Linked DNA regions of Homo sapiens: region 2 is linked to region 1. A link means that fine-mapping ties the variant in region 1 to the expression of a gene that starts in the linked region. Tissue or cell type: lung. Region 1 holds a variant in brackets; the other region holds the start of a gene. All regions are shown on one strand. Distances are from middle to middle.

Region 1 (2,907 bases):
AGTATGTGAAGTTACCTCTATCATTGTAACTGAGACAAATAAAGTTAATAGAAGGAAAGATAGTTTAAGGCTGAAGAACAAAGAATGAGAGAGCTTACAACTCTTAACTCTTAGCTAGGAATAACCTAAAGACTGCCCAGCCATTTGGTTTTATCTTCTGGCTTCCCACCTCTGAACAGTGAACTCTTTCTTCACTAGAAGCAGCTCATCCAGAGAGAGAAGTAAGAAGCTAAGGGAGGAGTGGGGGAGACAGAGTGGGAGAGGGAAAAAGACAATACCAGTGCTGATTAGTTATTTTATAAAAGTCTAAATATTAGAAGAGCCTGGGAATCAGACTCTATCCTTCTTCTGATCCCTCACACGTGCTGAAGATCAAAATAATAGAGATATGGTTTAATTGCAGCAATGCAAAAAACCCCTAGGCCTGGACTTCAGGAGTAAGATGGGAAGAAAAAAAAAAAGGGTGAGTGCAGGGAGAGAAAAGAGTCAAAATCTACAATAACAACAACCAAACAAGGAAAGAGAGATAATCTAGGCAATAAACTTCAAATATTGGCAATCAAAAAAAAAAAAGAAACAGTGAAACAGCAGAGAGCAGAAGTAAGCAAAACACTAGTTTCTAATCAGCCCTTGAAACTGTACCGCAAAGTCAGCAAAATCCTGAGAATTTTCCTTTATACCCCCAAATCTGCAGAGGCAAGCTGAGGGGGTTTCCTTATTTTCTTCTTCTTCTCATGAGTGAGTGGTAAACATGGCTGCTAGGGAGAAATGAGCAAAATGAAGAGAGAACATCAGGATTGGCTCTTTAGAGTGAAGACTTCAGTGAATTAAATAATCAGAGCTCAAAGGGTATATTATCTCTTCCAAATAAGAGAGTGAACTCTGATAGGTAACTTTGAAGAGAATCTCAGAATAGACCTGGTTATTCTAATACAGATAGAACAAAGCTTTGGCTGAGCTTTGTCCCCAGCCAAATGGTCTCAGACAGGAAGCACCCACAGTGCATAAGAACAATGTCTGGAGAATGCCACCCCAAGATGAGAGAAAATGGCAAGGAAACTATGCAAACAAACTAAAAGGCAGGGGAAAAGGTAGTATGTAGCATGCAAAATAAAAACCCAACACAGAAGGAAACAAGCTAAGGGATGAAGGAAACCCCTTATAACTTTCTCACTATAGGAAAATATCATAAGAACATGAATTTAAGAAAACAAAGAGTTCAAAACCTAGACCATGAAACAAAAAGAATGAGCTACAGACCTAAAAAAACAAAGCCAGTAGCATCCATACAGAACTAACAAAGACATTAGGAACAGCAAGGAATAAAATAAACATTGCCAAGAATAAAAATGCTGACTTCAAGGAAAAGGTCTGAAATAAGTTTATTGAACCCAGATTTAAAAAAGACAGAGATTGAAAGATCAATGCCACTCCAAATGTGGAGAACTGTGTTCAATCTGGCCAGAGGCAACCAAAAGTCATACAGAGAATGACTGCGATGGTTGGAAGTCTGTGAAATCATATGAAAAGCGGAGTAACCCAGAAAAATGTGGGGCAGAGAAGATTCAGGGAGAAAGGGGCTTTCAAATAGACGAAGGTCTGT[A/C]ACATGGAAAAAACAATTATGGAACTTCTATTTCTAGCAATATTATATACCTTGAGCAACCTTCCTAACTGAAATAACTAAAAAACTTGATAAAACATCAAAAAAAAAAAATTTAAACCTATCACTAACCTAACATAAAGAAACTTGCTAAACCCCCAAACAAAGCAAAATCAAGAATCCTGCAAGATAAGTGAGTGGCAAAACTAGCTTTCACCCTGAGGTGGCACCAGACCCTTCAGACTTCAAACTCCTACACTGACAGATGAGCAAAGGATGGACCAGAAGATACATTAGAGACTGCCCAAGATAAGGAGTCCAACAGGAGATGGCTGGAAAAAGACCACACTCTACAGTGTACAAGAAATAAATCCCACTACTGCAAAAGAGAAAAGAAAAACTGTTTTTCTCAACCCTGATGTTCAAGTAAAGAAAAATAGCAATCTTTCAAGAATGTGTAACAAGGAAGCCTTTATGTGAGTTTGTGGTCAGAATTCACACTACCTCTGTGGTACAAAATGACAAGCTAAGGATTTGACTTAATTTGGTTCCAGTGTGGTGGCAATCCCCAGCAACTCAAAAAGGTATGACAAATCTTCTCTGGAAGAAGAGAACTTCCAGACTTAACTTCAATCTAGGCCTCAAAGAATCCCTAGGTTCCCAGAAAAATGAGTGGCTCATAAAAAAATAAATAAATAAAATAAAATCACAAATATAAGGAAACAAGGAACCATGACTGAAGCCAGCAGAATCAGGTAAGGCTCATGGATATTGGAATTATCAGACACAGAATACAACATATTTATGTGTAATATATTTAAGTAAACAAAAGTTAAGCCAAGGAAAAGGACTATAAAAAACAACCAAGCAGATTAAAAAAAAAAAAAAAAAAAAAAGACGGCCAAGCGTGGTGGCTTACGCCTGTAATCCCAGCACTTTGAGAAGCCAAGGCAGGCAGATCACTTCAGCTTGGGAGTTCAACACCAGCCTGGGCAACATGGTGAAACCCCATCTCTACTAAAAATACAAAAATTAGCGAGGCATGGTGGTGCATGCCTGTAGTCCCAGCTACTCAAGGGGGCTGAGGTGGGAGGGTCGCTTGAGCCCAGAGAGGTCAAGGCTGCAGTGAGCTGAGATGGCACCACTACACTCTGGCCTGAGCAACAGAGTGACACCCTGTCTCAAAAAATAATAATAAAATAAAAGGAGAACTACAAAACAGAATTCTTTAGAATGAAATTAGAGTAAATAAAATTGAAAAGCCCAATGGGCTTCTACTGTGTCCGGAATTGGTGGGTTCTTGGTCT
Region 2 (2,907 bases), 24 kb before region 1:
AGTGCATCTGGATCTATAACTTGAAGCATATAAAAATATTTACTCAAAGTGGATCACAGACTAAATGTAAAACCAAAAGCTATAAAACATAGGAGAAAACTTTTGATCTTGGGTTAGGCCAAGATTTCTATGTGTACAACATCAAAATAGAAATCCATAAAAGAAACATTTGATATATTGGATTTCATCAAAATTAAGAACGTTTGCTCTTTGAAAGGCACCATAAGATAATGCAAAGAAAATATTTGCAAATCACTGCCTGATCATGTCCTTATATCCAGAATAAAACACCCTCAAAACTCGATAAGAAGACAACCCAATTTCTTTTTTAATGGGCAGGAAATTCAAACATGCTATTCAATAAAAAAAACTTATCCTTAGCAAATAAGTACATGAAAAGACATTCAATACAATTACTAATCAAGGAAACTCAAAACCACAATGAGATACTGCTACACACCAATTAAAATTTAAAAGGCTGACTATATCAAGTGTTGGTGAGGACAGAGAACTGCAACCTTCATACACTGCTGCTAGGAATATAAAATGATACAACCATTTTGCAAAACAGTATGGCAGTTTCCTAATAAGTTATAAAAGTCCACCTACCACATGACCCAGGCATTCCATTCCTAAGTGTTTACTCAAGGAAAATTAAAACATACGTACTTTCGAAGATTTGTGCACCATATTCGCAGCAGCTTTATTTGTAATAGCCAAAAGGTAAACAACGCAAATGTCCAATAGTGAATCGCTAAACAAATTGTAGTCTATCTGTACAATGCAATACTATAAAATAAATTTTACTTAGCCATAAAAGGAAGAAACCATTGATATAGGCAACAACATGGCTGAACCCCAAAACAGTTATCCTGCCTAGTATATACTCTATGGTCCATTTACATAAAATTCTAGAAAATGCAAACTAATTTATAGTGACCTAAAGTACATCAGTGCTTGCCTGGCCAGGTGGTTTCGGGAGGAAGGGGTTACCAAAGGGCAAGGGAAAACTTGCAGGGATGATGATATGTTCATAATGTTGATCTCGGTGATGGTCTCACGAGGGAAACATTAAAATTTATCAAATTGTACACGTTGAATATGTGCAATTTATTGCATGTCAATTATATCCAAATAAGAGATTTTTATAAAGAAAAAAATAGGTATTCTGGCGCCCAGGGCCACCCAGCTGTAAGCGGCGGGGTGGGATTCCAACCCAGAAGCGGGCATTTGGAGCCCTCATGCTTCACCCTAGCTCCCTGAAACAAGCACGGAGGATGGCTCTGAGCAGCGAGGAAAGTGCTGGAAGCAAGCAGGCCGAGCGCGTCCCTGGCTGGGGACGTTAATCATTACCGGAGGGCGGCCCGAGCGCGGCCCCGCCCCGGGACGGCAGCCTGCGCGCCCGGCCGCCGCCTGCCCTCTCCGCTGGCCACCTGCTGCCGCCCGCGCCATGGTGAGTCCAGGGGTGCGCGGCCGCGATCGGGGCAGCGGGGCCGGGGCAGCCGCGGGCGAGGTGGGAGCGGGAAGGGGCGGGGGAAAGTCTTTTCGAGTCCCCTGCGGAGCCGCCGGGGTCCGAAAGTGGGGTCTCTGCCCGGCTCTCTGTCGCTGGCGGCGGGGAGGGGAAGCTGAAGCCCTGAGAGGGGCGGTGGCGGGTTCGAATCCCACCCAGTTGGGAGGCCAGGCCTGCCCTGACCCCGGCCAGTGCTTGTTCCGGGACCCTTCCGGGGGCGGGGCCTACGACCTTCCTGGGCCGGGGAAGACAGTCGTGGAGGAGTCCACGGATCTCGTCCCCTTGGTGGCCCGATTCTGCTTTATACTGGGGTGGGAGCGAGAGGGAGGCTGAGTTTGCGCGCTCGTGTGCGTGCCTGTCCGCTGCCCCTTCCCGCTGGCACTCTGGGTACGGGGTCTGCCTGGGACTCACGCTCTGCGCCGGTATGCTGGCCCCAGAGCCACTCCCCGCGCCGGCTTGAGGCCCGTGCCAGGCCACGGGGGCTTGGTGGCGCTGGAGCAGCCCTCCTCCCGTGAGCTTCCCCCACCCACCCCCGGGGCGGGGGCGGGGGCGGGGCCCTTGCTCTGCTGTAAGCTCGCGAGCTTCATCAGACCATTTCTGGTCCACAGGCCTTCGGAGCAGGCAAGACTGGGAGGGCCTTTTGATAGGAGAGGGACTTGGGGGAGGGAGGATGAGTGGGGCTGTTTGTGAGGGGCGCTGAGGTCCCAGAGATGCAGGCTTGGGAAATCGGTAACCACTCCCCACACCTCGCCAGAGGAGGCAAACGGGGCAGCGTCCCCCTCTCTGTCTCCAGAGCCGGCACCTGGAAGGTTTGTCAGTTCAGCCGCAGGCTGTGCGACCTGGGGGGTTCCAGAAGGCTCTACCGAGAAAGGGAAGCCTCCTAAGAGCTCACCTGGACTCACCCACCCCTTTAAGAGCCAAGGAAGTAAACAGTGGGCTCTGATGCTTTGGCTGACTTCTGGTTGTCTAGATACACGGACCAGGCGGTCAGCCACGGGGAGAAGGCCAGCTCTGGAGTAGAGACCTACCTACTGGGCAGATGATGCAAATCGCTGCTGCCATTCAATCCCTATAGTCATCCAGAGCCGAGGGGAAGAGAGGGGCCAAGCTACATCAGTCCAGAGAGAGCTCACGTTTTCAGGAGGGAAAACAGCAGGGAAAAAAGACGGACTTAGGAAAGCACTGCGATGCTTCAGCTACCCCAAATGCTACCAGGCCCATCACAAGCCTGCTTGCCTTAGGAAGTTTTTTTTTTGTAATGCAGATGACATTTGCTTTATAGCAGTGGAGTTTCCTAAAGTGTCCCATTGGCACCTCATGATGATCTGTGGAGGTGGAGGTTCTGCCAAGAGAGGTACAGCCACCTGGCTGGTAAATGGTGAAAGCGGGTCTCAAAA

The links.
Region 2: it holds the start of PCBD1, and the variant in region 1 is fine-mapped to the expression of PCBD1 in lung (TOPMed, PIP 0.92).

What each region holds. Positions count from the first base shown.
Region 1 is chr10:70,862,879-70,865,785 of GRCh38, reverse strand. The region is part of intron 7 of SGPL1 (sphingosine-1-phosphate lyase 1); the gene reads right to left. Among named protein-coding and RNA genes, the nearest start is that of PCBD1, 24 kb to the left of the region's middle. The variant A/C (reference allele first, on the strand shown) is at 1,604.
Region 2 is chr10:70,887,077-70,889,983 of GRCh38, reverse strand. PCBD1 (pterin-4 alpha-carbinolamine dehydratase 1) reads left to right here and starts at 1,419. Exons shown (of 4, transcript NM_000281.4): 1 at 1,419-1,453. The coding sequence starts at 1,451. RefSeq lists silencers at 1,303-1,552, 1,883-2,162.